Linked DNA regions of Homo sapiens: region 2 is linked to region 1. A link means that fine-mapping ties the variant in region 1 to the expression of a gene that starts in the linked region. Tissue or cell type: Th17 cells. Region 1 holds a variant in brackets; the other region holds the start of a gene. All regions are shown on one strand. Distances are from middle to middle.

Region 1 (8,381 bases):
CTAATATGGTTAGGTTAACAGAATTCCACTTTTATTATGCTTCCTTTTCCTTTATAAATCAGGTCAGTCTTTTCCTCCTGATGAAGGAATTCATGAACTGCATGCTACCCTTACTGTTATGACTTCTAAAACTGCTGCAACCATTTGATTGGAAAAGTATTTTACAATAAATGCTGCGTTCCATGTGCTAAGTACTGAAGTTATTACCATGACAACAAGACCACCTTCTTGCCTACAGTTCGGAGATTAATAAAGGGCTCCTGAGATAACCACAAGGCACATGAAATAACCCAGGAACTATAAATTGCAAAAGGTAAATGCTGTTTTGTTTTGCACTTAAAGTACCATTGCTGTTCAGTGAAGGGAATATTGCCCACAGATGTTTTGGAAAGCCATCTGAGGAAGGCACAGAAGGTTGTACAAATAGAATAGGCAGAAAGGAAAGCAGAACACAGCATTAGCAAAGTCATAGGAGTCAAAATTTCATTGCTAAGGAAAACTAGTGCTTTTCATTTCATATTTCTGGCTGTCCTACTGACTTGGAATGCTTCAAATGCACCAATTCACCTGCCTTAGATATGGACTGATACTTCAGTCCCATCTGCTGTAATAGGTGAGCTTTTCATATTTTCTGAAGCTATTATCCATAGTGTTTCCCCTCTAATTTCAAAAGCCTAGAGAGAAACAATATGGAAAAAACTCTTGTTTTGGACAGAGAAGGCTCTGAAGCAAGCCACCTCCTAGAGATGGAGAGCTTCATTTTGTCCTGCCTGAGCCAAGATAGGACACAGTAGGAGTTTGCTGCAAGAACACAGAACACATCAGGTTTTCATGTAGCAGTGCCCTAAGAAGGAAACTGGACAAGGATAACTTGAATTGAGGAAACCAGTCCAGCTGGAGCACCACCCTGTGGTTTCGCATGGACTAGGAATAGAAATTTGCTCTGAAGAAATGTATTTTTAAAAGTTAACCTTCACATGGTATTTGAAGTTTCATAGAACTTTTTTGGATTGGAACCAGATCTAGCATGCATGTTCTTAGGTATTAAAGCCTAATATTATTATATTACTCTTTGAAAAAAATGAATTCTTTCATCATAGTAATTTTCTTAAAATATAACACTGCTTTTTACTTATATTAAATTCTCTACTGTTTCTGATGTTATGCTACTTAGGAAAATGCCATTTTCTTGTTAAATTAATATGTGCAGACAAGTATTTACTTACCACACATGAACATGAGCCCCTTATAAGTCATCACTCCTAATATTTATGGTCTAAGAATGAGGTAGTTCGGGTGAGTCACATATTTACACTTAGCAGAGAGATTAAGAAAAAAATTCGCACCACAATTTCCCTTAAGTAATGGAAAAAATGTGACTTGTTACACATTTGTTTTCTGGGTCAGTGTTTTTCCAGCTTTTCCATAGAGTCTTAAGGTCATCCAAGGTTTCTTTAGGTTTTCCTAAAAGAAAGAACTGGGGAGTTGTGATGGGTGCTTGATTTTAAATGTGATAACAATTATCTGCGACTTTTAGAGAACACAGCTAACCATTGTGAAGATTACTGTTCTGGATAGTGAAAAATATGAACCAGCAGTATAGGCTTTGAATGTTTGAAATTGATGATCTTAAATTTCTTAAATAACAGGGCCCTAGACATGCACTTTGCTCACAAAAGAGATCTTTTACCCCAGTCTTTAGAAATTTGCTTAAAGTGGGAGAGTCTAGTATTTATAAATAAAAGGAAAGCAGTAAGATTCAGAAAAATACCATTGAGATTTATAAGGAACTAGAGAACCATAGTTCCTGGAAAATCCAGGAGTAATTGAATAGCTTTTATAATATAAAGAAAAAGAATATTCACGGTGCATTACTTTTGGCAGCCTATCATCTAAATATGGCACCCAGAATAAATGCATTGACTGAAGGGAAATTGTATGATTTGCATAAATTTTACCAATGGCTATAAATTATCCTCTCTGGTGATTTTTCAAGATAGATAGTGTTATGGGTTGAATTGTGTCCCCTCAAAGGACACTGAAGTCCTAATCTTAGTATCTGTGAATGTGACCTTATTTAAAAATAAGATCTTTGTTGATGATCAAGCTAAGATGATTTCATTGGAGTAAGCCCTAAGTGATTAAATATGACTATGTTCTTATGAAATGGGGAAATTTGGACACAGAGACAGACACACACAGAGAGATGATATGGAAACATAAGGAGAACACCATCTGCAAGCCAAGGACGGCCTGAGGTTACCAGAAGCTAGGACAGAGGCAGGGAACAGATCCTCCCTTACAGACTTTGGAAGGAACCAATCCTTCTGACGCCTTGATTTTGGAGTTCTAGCCTCCAGAAGCATGAGGCAGTAAATTTCTGTTGTTTAAGCCCCCCAGCTTGTGGTACTTTGTTGAGGCAGTGCTAGCAAACTAGTACAGTTATATATTCTGAATCCTTGTCTTTTGGCTTGCCATTTAGCCCCCGAGTCTCCCTGGCAATCAATAAAGCACAGAAGCTTTGTTCAGATTGCCAACCACCCGGTTCAGTTCTGGACAACCTCATACTGCCATCCACGTAAGGCAAGTTCCTTTTAAAGTTTGCCAGACCAAAGCAATTAAGAGGGCAAATCTGTTGGAAAAACTCACATATTGCATTATGAAGCCAAATATAAATTCTACTTTGATTATTGTTCCTTATGAAGGAGAGCAGTGTCTCTAATAATCAGAAAAGAATCAGGGATTGATTGTATTTCATTTTCTTCGAGGAAAATTTGGCCAAATAGCTAAAGTAACCTGATTAATGAGAAATTTGCAGAATGGGAAAAACACTGCAATTATAGGCAGCAACCATGGACATCCGCTGATGGCCAAAGAACATAGCCAGTCTTCTGGTGCGTACATTATGTGGCAGCTCGTTGGTCTCCTGCCAAATAGGACAATCAATGTAGGTTGAAATTTGTCTCAATCTCACTCGGCAATCATATTCATAAACACTGCCTCTGTGTCTTATTTAGGTGAGACAGCAACTTAAAGACTATTATGTAAACAGAATTTTCATACCTAGAATTTTAAAAATGTATTAAACTTTAAAAGGGTCTTTCCTAATATTTGATGGAGGAGCTTCAGAATAGTTAATTTAAATGAAATTGTAGTATTATATATTTTCATTTTTTAAAATGTTAAGTTGCTAAGTGTGAAGGCTTTAGACACTGACACCTCATATTGATTCTTGCTTTACAAAGAGACTTGGAAAAGAAACCAGTGTATGTATAAAATGATTAATTGGGATAAGAAACTCAGCTAAGAGATATTCAGACTGGAAAAAACTAAATAAAGAATATAAAACAAGCAATTAAAAAAAGGAAAAAGCAGGCATGGTGTTGAAGTATATGAAGTAATCTAACACCACTGTGTTTTTTCATCTTCATTTTCCAGTGTCTATGCTGCATTGTAACTTTTGGAAAAACATGCACACACCTGGTGCCACCTGGGTAGGTGTGACCAGAACCTGCCTGTTGGAAAATAAAGGATTAAAAAAATGAAATGAGAGAAAGTGACACATAAAAGGACAACTTAAGGTTTCCGCAAAGCAAATACATAACCAAGCTGATCAACCCTCCAGCATAGTCCTTCTGAGCTGTGTTTCCACAGGAAAATGAGGGTAGAGGCAATCACAAAAGTCTTGGCTCTCATCCACCCCTGTGGCCTGCTGACACAGGCCCAGCTTGCCAGAGCACTGGGGTCACAATGAAGTTGCTGCCAGTAGAGCTGCTTTCATTAAAATTGAGTAAGAAGAACAGGTAATGGGGTTGGGCAGAAACTAGGACCTGAAAGTGGTTGGGATTGGGGGACTCCTGTCTTCTAATTGGGAAGGCTGGGTAGGGCTTCTTGGTAGTACCTGACAATTATCTTGTTCTAGCATTTACAGCCTTTCTCTACTCCTGGAGTCACTGCAGGGCCCCCAGGGGACTCTGAAAACAGCCAGTTGTTAAGCAAGGGTATTCTCCACTAGGGCTACCATGAAGTTTATATTATAGAGCTGGATCTTTCACCCCTTTTGTGCTGTAAACCATTTGTGCACAGCCTTTGAACTATTTCTCATAATAATACTTTTTAAATATATATAAAATATATGTCATTACAAATAAAATCAACTATGATGAAATATGGCACATGTATACATATGTAACTAACCTGCACAAAGTGCACATGTACCCTAAAACTTAAAGTATAATAAAAA[AAT/A]ATATATATATATTTATAAATATTGATATACTGTTAGAAAAACATTTTTTAAAATAAATAGGTGATATAGTAATTACATTCTTTATTAATATGTTCAATATAATCTGGTCTTGAGCTTATTAATTATGATTTCACATTAATGATGACGAAAAATAACATTTTGAGATATCAGCAACAACTGATACGAATGGAAATATCCATCATTTCTATTAGGGACAAAGTCACAGGTATTGCTAACACTGTGATTTGTTTCTACATTCATCATGGAAGGCAGTGCCAAATGTCATTTAAGGGTGCATGAAAATGTAGATGAAATGTTTTCCCATACAAGTTCACAGACCCCCTGAAATCTACCTGTGGACCCTTTGCTGGATCTGGAGTTCAGGTTAAGAACCCTGCCATACAGGCTTACCCATCCTAATACGGAAGTTTACCACAAATACCACATCAGCTTTCATGCAATTGTATGATAATTACCAACTTTTAAAACAGTGTCACTTTAATCTCTATCTCTCTGATGATTCAGAAATCACTTCAAAATTTTCACAAGAAGTAACATTGTGAGTATCAAAAAATTTGCCCTGTAGACTTGGGGAATGCTTGTTAATGAAATTACTAGGTTCAGAAAATCTCTAATAGTTGTTAGTATTTTCTTTCTAAACAAGAATGTGCAACAAATGATGCAAGAGCAGAATGGTATTATCATTGCTTTGCGAGTCCTCAGGAGAAAGAAATAGAGTGATCAATATGATCAATAAAACAAGGCAGTTTAAGCTTAAGTCAGACCCTGAAGTCAGGCGCATTTTCGTGCAAATCTCAACCCTACTACTCACATTTGACAAGTTATTTACTTCTCTAAACCTCTAAGCCTGTATCTGAGCTACAAAATAGGGATAAAAATAGTGCCTATCTCATAGAGATATTGAGGGGATTAAACGAGGTAATACATGATAACATACTAACTCAGGCTCTGTTGTTAGAGGATCCATTGCCCCTCTTGCAAAATGGGAAAATGGAAACCATCTTCAAGTCTGTCAGACATCTCTAAGCCTGTCTTTTCTTCCAGCCTCTTTTCTTGGAGTTGCTCTACATTTTCCACTGTAGTGGATGGCCTCCGTTTTTCATTCGGCATTGCAGGAATTTTGAAGAATACACAGTTTTTGAAAAGAGACAGACAGTTCAAGAAGACAGGGGAAAACAGAAGAGGCCACTTATTTTGCATATAAGACAGATGCTCAGGGCATACCAGAATAGCTTAGAATTATTTGTAATCAGCAGATATGAGTGTAGGTCTGGTATCAGCTTTAAAATGTTTTGTAATGTTGAGAAATATTTTACAATCCATCCACCCCCAGTTTTCCTATGACAAAATGTCAAGAGGGACGTGCAAGAAGCTTGAGAACCAGCAAGTAATTTTTCATATGAATTCCCACTAGTTGGGACTGACTTGAAGGATGTAATTTATGGCCATTCTTGGGAAACAACCATGAAAATGTAGTGCTAAAGCTTGTCAGCTGCTTCCTGTCCCCTAAAGTGGTAGAGATAACTTACCAGAGTGTCCCATTTTCACTCTTTTTGGTTCCCACATTATACTTACAAACAAATAAAAACAATACAAACATGAAAGAGAACTCCAACTTCAAAGCACGCAAAGATAACTGATGACTAGGAAATAAGAGCTTTGGCTGCTTATTTGAATAAGCCAGGCTTTTCTTTTTCATCACAGTACAATGTAAATGACTGCCTTTACTGATGAGAAAATTTTGCTTTTCAACATTTTTTTGTCACTCTTTTGTATATATTTTCAAACTTAGAAAAAAGCTATGAGAAAAGATTACATAACTCTCATATTCTGTTTATCCAGATCCACAAACTGTTTACATTTTTCCCATTTGTTTTATCATTCACTCTCCCTTCTCTCTATACATAAATATTTATGTATAAATAAATATATATACACACATTCATATTTTTCTGTACCTGAGAATAAGTTGGAAACATTTTGCCTCCTTACATTTAAGTGTTTCAATATCTATACTTCATAATAAATACATTTTGTAGGATAACAAAAGTATAATTATCAATATCAGAAAATTTAACATGATGCAATGACATTATCTAATCCACAGTCTATATTTGAATTTCTTCAATTGTCCCAATCATGCCCTTTCTAGTTACTTTCCTCTCCTTGGTCCAGAATCTAATCTAGGACTGAACATAGCATTTAGTTGTTATAACTCTTTACACTCTTTTAAATTGGAACAGTTCCTCAGTTTTTTTGTTTTTTTGTTTTTTTTTAGATAGAATCTCGCTCTGTCATCCAGGCTGGAACACAGTGTTATGATCTTGGCTCGCTGCAGCCTCGACCTCCTGGGCTCATGTGATCTTCCCACTTCAGCTTCCCAAGTAGCTAGGATTACAGGCACACATCACCACACCTGGCTAATTTTTGCATTTTTTTAAGAGATGGGGTCTCACTGTGTTGCCCAGGCTGGGATCAAACTCCTGGGCTCAAGCGATCCACCTACCTCGGCCTCCCAAAGTGCTGGGATTACAAGTGTGAACCATTGTGCCTGGCCTCTCAGCATTTTTTAATGATATTTCATCTTTGACATTTTTGCAGAGTATAAGGAATTTTGAAGAGTACACAGTTTTTCAAGAGAGATAGACTAAAATGTCCCTCAGTTGTCTAATACTTCCTCATAATTAGATTCGGATTAGGTATTTTGGGGCAGAAATGCTACAGAACGATGTGTGTCCTTCTTAGTGCTTCATATCAGGAGGCATATGTTGTTGGTTCATGTCCCATCATTGGTGACATGAACTTTATTTTATTAAGGTGGCATTATTTTATTTTATTTTATTAAGGTGGCATTTTTTTAGAATTTTCCAATGTAAAGTTATTATTTTTCTATCTGACAATTAATGAGCAATTTGTGGAAGATATTCTGAAACTATGTAAATATCCTGATCCTCACCACACTTTCACTCATTAGTTTCAGCCTCCACTGGTGACTCCTGCCTGAATCAATTATTTTGATAATTTCCGAATGATAGTTTTCTAACTTGTCATTTCTTCTACATTTATTGGTTGATATTCTATTGTAAGAAAGAACTTGTCTTTCTCCCTGTTGATTTTTTTATACACTTACTGTTTATATCAACAGGGAACCATGTATTCTTTTTTTGTTCAATGGATTGTAATCCATTACTGACATTACTTTGTCTCAGAAGTCACCAGGGAGAGTCCTTTCAAGCTGGTTCTTGTGTCCTCTTGATAGGTCCCTACCATTTGTGGCCTACAACCACAATAGTAGTTCATGCTTTTGCATAATTTGCTGCCTTACTAGTACAGAAATACCTTTTTCGTTCTCACATAAAGATAATTATTTACTTTTACAGAAGGGAGAATTATTATTGATTTAACTATATATTTTAAACATTGTATTTGGCCTCTCAGGATTTTTAGTTTTCAAATAAAAGTTATTGATTTGGACATATTTATATCTATTGATACAATTTAAAAAATCTTAATGGAGGGCTGGGCACGGTGGCTCACGCCTGTAATCCCAGCACTTTGGGAGGCCGAGGCAGGCAGATCACGAGGTCAGGAGATCGAGACCATCCTGGCTAACACAGTGAAACCCCGTCTCTACTAAAAATACCAAAAACTTAGCTGGGCGTGGTGGCGGGCGCCTGTAGTGCCAGCTGCTTGTGAGGCTGAGGCAGGAGAATGGTGTGAACCCGGGAGGCGTAGCTTGCAGTGAGCCGAGATTGTGCCACTGCACTCCAGCCTGGGCGACAGAGCAGGACTCCGTCTCAAACAAACAAACAAAAAAATCTTAATGGAAACAAAACAACAACAAAAAATCCCAACCAAATTTATCTTCCAAACAATGGAAAAGGGTGAGATTTAATGCATCTTGGCCTAAGACAATTAAGAAAATTTTGATATTCCATAGTTGATATAAGAAGGAAGAAAGCAGTAGAGATTATCATACATTTTGGAAAATAGAGGGAAAAATGAACACGAATATTTAGTATCTATAACAAATTTCTACTTGTATAAAACAGCAAATCTGTTTCATTATAATGGCTAAGTACAGTTCTCCACAGTTGAGCAGTTTTTATTTGTA
Region 2 (8,381 bases), 220 kb before region 1:
ACATGGTCTATTTTGTCAGCCTAACAAAAGCTCCCTCTTCTCTTGCCTTTTAACCTAAAAATCCATCCTCCACCTTGCTGTCAAAATAATCTAATAAAACACATTTCTGTTCATGTTACTCCCCTGATGTAAAGGCTTTAGGGGCTTTCCAGTAACAGCCAAATTCAGGACAAACTCATTAAAGTGGTATTCTACTTTTTCCCCACAATACGATTTTAATCAAGTTTCTTTCTCTTATATTCATTTTCCCCAATGTGTACCCTGGGATCCAGTGAGATTGGCCTGTTTATTGTTTCCTGAGTTTTTTCCCGTTGGCCATGAATTCTTTAGCTTGTCTAAACTTATCTATCCTTCAAGTTTCAATTCTGTTGTCTTTTTCTTTTCTTTTTTTTCAGAATTCCCACACTGTTTCTATCCTTTGAACTGTGATAAAACTTTACCCATAGTGATTCTCTTTTTATTATAGATACTTGCATATTATATATACAATACCTACCATACTTAAAGATCTATGAGACTGGAGAATATATTTAATATGTTTTTATTATCGGTATCTTGCATAGGGCATACAGGAAGTATTTAATAAATGTTTGAAGAACATAAATGAACTCCTCAAAATATTTAATATAAAAATTTTGGAGCTCAAAGTGACCTTAGAGATAATACAGTCTAACTCTTTTATTTTATAAAGGAAAGAATTGGAGATAAAAAATGTTAAGTGACTGCCCAAAGTCATGTGGCTGTTGAGCGACAAAGCAGTACCACAAATTCCATTCCCTGGCTTTCAGTCCTGTCCTCTTTCCATTTCATTACAGTACCTGTTTGGGAAGCTTGAATTGAGTCATCATCCTTGTCAACAATGTCCCTGAATTTGGTACCATCATTAGTGTAAAAGACATAGAGTCCTTTCCAGTCTCACAAGTTTATGAGTCCACAACCCAGTGAAAATCTGGGAGAAAGCTCAAGCTACCCACCCAACTTACCAGGCGAAAGAGGCAGATGGTGTTCCCAGTGATGTTGTAGTGTGTCAGAACCTCAGAATCAGTGCTGATCCCAAATGACACGCCTGGGAATTTTTGCACCATGCTATGGAGTATGGGCACTGCTGGTATTTCTAAATCCTAAAAACAAGAGAAAAAATAATACCACAGTGGTTATTTCGAAGGGCAGAGACAAACGATAGGCAAAAGAAATATGATATGATGTTTACCAGAAATCATAGATTTGATTTACTGCCCAGTAACACATGATTTACCCCTAACAATTCAGGTTTAACTGGCAGTGACATTCTTGAATTTTCCAGGCTCTGTAAGTTAATAGGTAACCACGAAATTGTAGCTGAGCCTGAGACTCCTGTCAGGCCTTGTCATAGAGCTTGAAGTTTACTAGGGGCTGAGAGAGGCCTCAAAATCATAAAGGCCTGCCTAGTTTGGCTGCACTGTTGTAGATACACATGAGAAGCAACTCTTCTGGGAACAATTTGTTTAACGGTGAAATAGCAAACAAACTAACATAACCAACTCTATTTTTGTTTAAAGGGCATTTATTTACTCATTCCTGCATGTAGGTTAGAATAATTTTAGAGCACTGAGATAATAGGCAAAAATAGGAGTTATATAGTTTTTAAAACTAACTCTGGGATTAAAGGAAAAGTATGTAAACAACTAACTATGTAGTGCTACAGATTTATAGGTGCCTTGTGACCTGACCAAGGACAAAGAAGTTCCCAACTTCCTGAGACACTTGCTGGGGCCCAGATGCCTGTGGTTGCCGGTTATCACTTGATCCCAACTCCCTCCTCTTCACCCTGCCCTTAACATACAAAGAACCTAAAATTGGTAGTGGCTTAAGATGTACTTTGTTTATTTATTTTGACACAGAGTCTTGCTCTGTCACCCAGGCTAGAGTGCAGTGGCAAAATTTTGGGTCACTGCAACCTCTGCCTCACGGATACTTGTGCCACAGCCTCCTGAGTAGCTGGGACTACAGGTGTTCACCACCATACTTGGCTAATTTTTTCTGTATTTTTAGTAGAGATGTGGTTTTGCCATGTTGCCCAGGCCAGCCTTGAACTCCTGAGCTCAGGCAATCCACCTCCCTCAGGCTCCCAAAGTGCTAGAATTACAGGTGTGAGTCACTGTGCCCGGCCAAGATGTACTTTAGGATGCTAGTCCGCTGTCTTCTTGGTTTACTGGATCTTCAAATAAACTGGCTTTTCCTCCCACCGGCTCTTCCTCTTGAGTTTTGGCTTTGGTTACATTTGTGGATGAAAGGAAAAAATGCAAAAATATGAAATAGACGCCATCAAAAGGGCCAAAAAAGAAAAAAAGAAGAAAAATAAAACAATTAAAATGAAAGCTTAGAAGTTTTAACAAAAGTTTATGCAGGTTATGGAAGGACAGTCCCTCTCTTGCCACTGTAGATAAACCTGAGCTTTGCACATGAAGATGCTGTTCACGCATTCAACTCTGCAGCCCAGGCCTGCAGGAGGCAGCAGAGAAGCCACTTGCGAACAGTGATTCCAGGCCTTCCATAGACGCTGGCATCATTTTCCCTGCTCTCACGGGACCTTTATCCATAGCAGCTCCAGGAAATTAACAGGAACAAACATGTTCTACCCTGCAAGTCCCCAGGCTGAAGGAGGAGATGTGCAAGGAGAAAAGAAGATGGCCAGTTGATATGGTTTGGCTGTGTCCTTACCTAAAATCTCATCTTTAAATGTAATCCCCATAATCCCCACATGTCAAGGGTGGGACCAGGTGGCAGTAATGGGATCATGGGGGCAGTTTCCCCCATGCTGTTCTCGTGATAGTGCATGAGTCACAAGATCTGATGGTTTTTTAAGCGTCTGGCATTCCCCTGCTTGTGCTCATTCTCTCTCCTGCCATCCTGTGAAGAGGTTCCTTCTGCCATGATTGTAAATTTCCTCAGGCCTTCCAAGCTATGCTGAACTGTGATTCAATTAAAACTCTTTCCTTTATAAATTATCCAGTTTTGGGTATGTCTTTATTGGCAGCATGAGAAGAAACTAACATACCCGTCTTGCATCTGGGGTCAAGCAGAGGGAGCTGGTATCTACTCTTCTAGAGGCCATGAACAATAATTAATTGAGGCCTCCTCTCTTATTCTGCTCCTTCAGATGGAATTGCTGGAGGATAAAATGATGGCATCTGGCGGCTGTTTAAGTTATTGCACACTCCTCCAATTCCATGCTCTTGCCCCTTCCCCATCTTTCTGACGGTGTTTTTGTCTACAGCTCAGATTTCTCATTCCTGAAAAATGTTGTCCCTGTCTTTCTCCCTGACTTGCATCTCATTGCAGTGATTTCCAACTGTGTACGCAGAACTGACAGGGTAATCAGGAGTTGTAACTGAGAAATGGAAACAGACAAGAAGGTCTGCTATGAGAGAGTAGGGGCTTGATCAGCTGTGAGGATTTCCAGATGCTACCACCAGAGAAAGATGAAAATGCTGGAATGAGGCAGTCTCATTTATGGCTGCCTTTCTTAGTCAAGAAGCTAATCTGGAAGATGGAGGTTAACACCTTGAATATACAAAATGCCATCATTTTCCAACATTTCAGACAAGGCAAAGAGAAAGAAGGAGAGTCTACCATATTTGGGGGAAAGGCTTTAAAAGGCTGTGCACTGACTAATGTCCAGGATGTTTGGCATCCTGTAAACAGTGTTGCTGGATGATATAAATTGGGTTCACTCTGGCCCCTGCCTATTCATAGGGTGCTATGAGAGTATAGACCAAATGTGTTTAGGACAATGGTGGGGTTCCATGAAGGCATTCTTTCTGCAGATACTGACTTGAGCTTCAAAGCATCCATAGATGAGGAGATGCAGCCCACAGGCTCAGAACTCTTGAAGTAAGTATGAGAAAGATATAATTTAGAGACTGGGAATGTCTTGAAAATAAGAGGTCCCAATGGACAAGATGAAATCAAACTGGGTGGCTGTCTCCCTTTACCCCCACTTCTAATGCAGTGCCATCTGCCAGCAGCAGGTGGCTGCTGTGGTTCCCTTAAGGTAGAACATTTCTGGCTCTTGGGGGAATTGCAAGTAGGGAACTAACCTGGAAGAAGCCTATGACAGCCACCTCAGTGGCAGCAATGAATTCCATGGCAGCTGGGACATCTGTGAGCCACGTGGGTTCCTGGGCAGCACCAGGACCATCTAGAGAGAGAAGCAGAAGATGTCAGGGTACTGAGGCAAGAAGAAGCAGCTCTAAATAATGAGGGCATCTATACCTTTTATCTCTATACTAAGGGCAAGAAGAGCACAATTTATAGGAGTACTGTTGGCATTCCAAGGCATAATATTTTTACTAACATATGGAAGGTGACCCTACTGATGGTCTGTCTCTGAAGGATACTGCCAGACTTCCCTACTCTCTACCAGGCAAAATGCACTTATCCAGGATTTCCTGGAAAGCTTTCTAGGTGTGGAGGAAAAGTACCCAGAGAACCACCATGCTCCCTTTCCTTCTCCTAATAACACTTTCACACTATAGCCACCCAACTACATTTTTCTTTTACCTGAGGATTTCTCAACTTCTGCAGCAACTTCTGCAGCCAGCTCACACGTGAGGAGAAATAAGAGGAACATGAACCTGGACGGGGCAGCTTCCATTGTCCCTCTCCTGCTCCTGCTCCAACCCTGGACTTTGTGTTGGGGAGGCCGACTCAGGGCAGCCTACTCTGTAGCTGATTGGCTGTGGGGTTGTTAGGGCTTTGGGAACTTTGCAGCTGGCTCCAGGGGAGCCTTCAACTTCTGAGATAAAAGACCAAGGTTAGTAATAGGGACTCAGAACATATCCAACCAGAAGAAAGTCAGGTCAGTTTATTTAAATAAAAAATGTAAATATGCTATGCCAGGCATTGATCCTAGCGCTAAGAATAGAAAGATAATTATGATCTGATCCAGCCTCTGCCAGCTTAGATTATCAGTGGGAGAGATGGGCAAGTAAAAAGATTATTTAAATATAAGATGGAAAGTGATATAGAAAAATTCATAGGGTGCTATGACAATACATATTAAGGGTATTAGGGACAATGCTAGGGTTCAATGAAAGTGTTCTTCCTGCGGAGGATGCCGGAGCAGAGTTCTGGGTAAGTAAGATTTTGCCAGGCAACACAAGGTAGAAAGGGAGTTTCATGTAAAGAACTAAAGCACAGGCCGGGCGTGGTGGCTCATACCTGTAATCCCAGAACTTTGGGAGGCTGAGGCAGGTGGATCACGAGGTCAGGAGATTGAGACCATCCTGGCTAACATGGTGAAACCCCATCTCTACTAAAAATACAAAAAATTAGCCAGGTGTGGTGGCGGGCGCCTGTAGTCCCAGCTACTCGGGAGGCTGAGGCAGGAGGATGGCCTGAACCCGGGAGGCAGAGCTTGCAGTGAGCCGAAATAGCACCACTGCACTCCAGCCTGGGCGACAGAGCGAGACTCCGTCTCAAAAAAAAAAAAAAAAAAAAAAAAGAACCAAAGCACAGATATGCAAATATAATGTGTGACAGAATTACTAGTAATTGAGAATGATGAAAAGGAAGGAAGTGATACATGTGGACAGAAAGGCATGTTGGGACCAGCTCACAGCAGGCTTTATATGATACACTAAGCGCGGGAGCATCAATTTTATTCTGTAGGTGATGGGAACCACTGAAAAGTCTTAAGCAGAAGAATGAGATGAAGTTTGATTTTGCTCACAAGTGTCTGAGGAAGTCCAAGATGAGATTTCCACAGGCATTGGGATATGTAGTTTTAAGCTTAGGAGAATTTTCATGTGAAAATATTACAAAAGAAATTAGGAAGCCCTAGCCAGGGCAATTAGGCAAGAGGAAGACATAAAAGGCATCTAAACAGGAAAAGAAAAAGTCAAACTATTTCTCCTTGTTGACAATATGATTGTATGCCTAGAAAGCTCTGAAGACTCTGCCAAAAGGCTACTGGAACTGATGAATGATTTCAGTAAGGTATCAGGAAAAAAATAAGTGTACAAAAATTAGTGGCATTTCTATACAGCAATAATGTCCAGGCTGAGAGTAAAATCAAGAACACAATTTCATTTACAATAGCTACAAATAAAATGAAATGCCTAGGAATACAGATAACCAAGGAGGTAAAATATCTCTACAAGGAGAAATACAAAACACTTTTGAAAGAAATCAGAGGTGACACAAATGAAAAAACACTCCATGCTCATGGGTAGGAAGAATCAGTATCTTCAAAATGGCCATACTGCCCAAAGAAATTAACAGATTCAGTGCTATTCCTATCTAACTACCAACGTCATTCTTCACAGAATTAGAAAAGAAACTATTCTAAAATTTATATGGAACCAAAAAAGAGTCTGACTAGCTAAAGCAATCCTAATCAAAAAGAACAAAAACAGAGGCGTCACATTACCCAACTTCAAACTATACTACAAGGCTACAGTAACCAAAATAGCATGGTACTGGTACAAAAGCAAACACATAGACCAATGGAACAGAATAGAGAACCCAGAAATAAAGTCATATACCTACAACCATCTGATCTTCGACAAAGTTAACAAAACCAATCAATGGGGAAAGGATTCCCTACTCAATAAATGGTGCTGTGATAGCTGGCTAGCCATATGCAGAAGAATGAAACTGCACCCTCATCTTTCACCATATAAAAAGTTAACTCAAGATGAATTAAAGATTTAAGACCTCAAACCATAAAAGTCCTAGAAGAAAACCTAGGAAATACTCTTTTTGACATTAATCTTGACAAGTAATTTTTGGCTAAGTCCTCAAAAGCAATTGCAACAAAAACAAAAATTGACAAGTGGGACCTAATTAAAGAGGTTCTTCAGAGCAAAAGGAACTATTGATAGACAATCTACAAAATGGGAGAAAGCATATGCAAACTATGCATCCAACAAAGGTCTAATATTCAGAATCCATAAGAAACTTAAACAAATCAAGAAGCAAAAAACAAATAACCCCAATAGAAAATGGGCAAAGAGCATAAACAGATACTTCTGAAAAGAAGACACACAAGAGGCCAATAAGCCTACAAAAAATGCTCAACGTTACTAATTATCAGAGAAATGCAAATCAAAGCCAAAATGAGATACAATCTCACACTAGTCAGAATGGCCATTATTAAAAAATCAAAAAACAACAGACACTGTGAGACTGCAGAGAAAAGGGAATGCTTATACATTATTCATGGGGATGTAGCTTAAGCAGTTACGTAGTTCAGCCACTGTGGAAAGCAACTCTAAGTAATGAGGACATCTATACCTTTTATCTCTACAGTAAGGCCAAGGAGAGTACTCCAATTTTTAGGAGTAACGTTAGCATTCCAAGGCATAATATTTTTACGAACGTATGGAGAGTGACCAGTTTGAAGATTTCTCAAAAAACTTGAAACAGAGCTACCATTTGATTCAGCAACCCCATTACTATGTATATATCCAAAGGAAAGTAGATTGTTGTACCAAACAGACATGCACATGTATGTTCATTGTTGTGCCATTCACAATAGCAAAGACACGGAATTAATGTAGTTGCCCATTAATGGTGGATTGGATAAAATATGTGGTGCATATATACCATGATATACTATATGGTCATAATAAAAAAGTAAAATCATGTCCTTTGCAGCAATATGGATGAAGCTGGAGGCCATAATCCTAAGCAAAGCAATGCAGAAACAGAAAACCAACTTCCATATGTTCTCAGTTATAAGTGGGAGCTAAACACTGAACACACATAGACATGAACATAGAAACAGTAGACACTGTGGACTACCTGAGGGGTAAGGGAGGGAGTGGGGCATTTTTTGAAAAACTATCTATTTAGTACTAGGCTCACTACCTGGATGCAATATACCCATGTAACGAACCTGCACATGTACCCTCTATACCTAATATAAAAGTCGAAATTAAAAATAGCTAACTAAATAAGTAAAATGTAGATTTCCCACTGGCTGTATTCTGAATGTGCATTGCCTATTATAGTGTAATAGGGGACCAATTTGTTCCCAAAGATGTAAATATCTCCTCCAGTGTGTTTTCCTCATCCCCATCCCCTCTGAGGGAACTCATGAATGTGAACCATCCAGTTATCATATTTGTTCAAAGCAAGAAAGCAGGGAAATGAAGGTCTCAGCCAGAACACACACAGTTATTGTTTTATTCTTGTTCTCTTGTGTCGTTTACAGTGTCTCTCACAAAAGAAGAACTCCCTCTGGCAGGGGATGTGACTAGGGACTCATTGGGCCAGCAACAACCACAAAAGAATCTAGGCATTAGAATGAACTACTGGAACCTGAGTCAAAGACCTGTTAGTGATAATTTGCCCATTTTCTGGCCTCTAGTTGCTTGAATAGGGGTAAGACAGGG

The links. PIP is the estimated chance that this variant, and not a neighbour inherited with it, causes the effect.
Region 2: ERP27 starts here. The variant in region 1 is fine-mapped to the expression of ERP27 in Th17 cells (Schmiedel 2018, PIP 0.95).

Annotation. Positions count from the first base shown.
Region 1 is chr12:15,151,758-15,160,138 of GRCh38, forward strand. All of the region lies in intron 2 of RERG (RAS like estrogen regulated growth inhibitor), which reads right to left. RERG-AS1 (RERG antisense RNA 1) reads left to right here and starts at 166. Exons shown (of 3, transcript NR_046559.1): 1 at 166-313; 2 at 2,483-2,583; 3 at 3,439-3,526. The variant AAT/A (reference allele first, on the strand shown) is at 4,244.
Region 2 is chr12:14,933,873-14,942,253 of GRCh38, forward strand. It overlaps ERP27 (endoplasmic reticulum protein 27), which reads right to left and starts at 4,665. Exons shown (of 7, transcript NM_152321.4): 1 at 4,543-4,665; 2 at 4,080-4,180; 3 at 984-1,121. The coding sequence starts at 4,636. ARHGDIB (Rho GDP dissociation inhibitor beta) reads right to left here. Exons shown (of 6, transcript NM_001175.7): 6 at 8,159-8,381. RefSeq lists an enhancer at 4,121-4,180.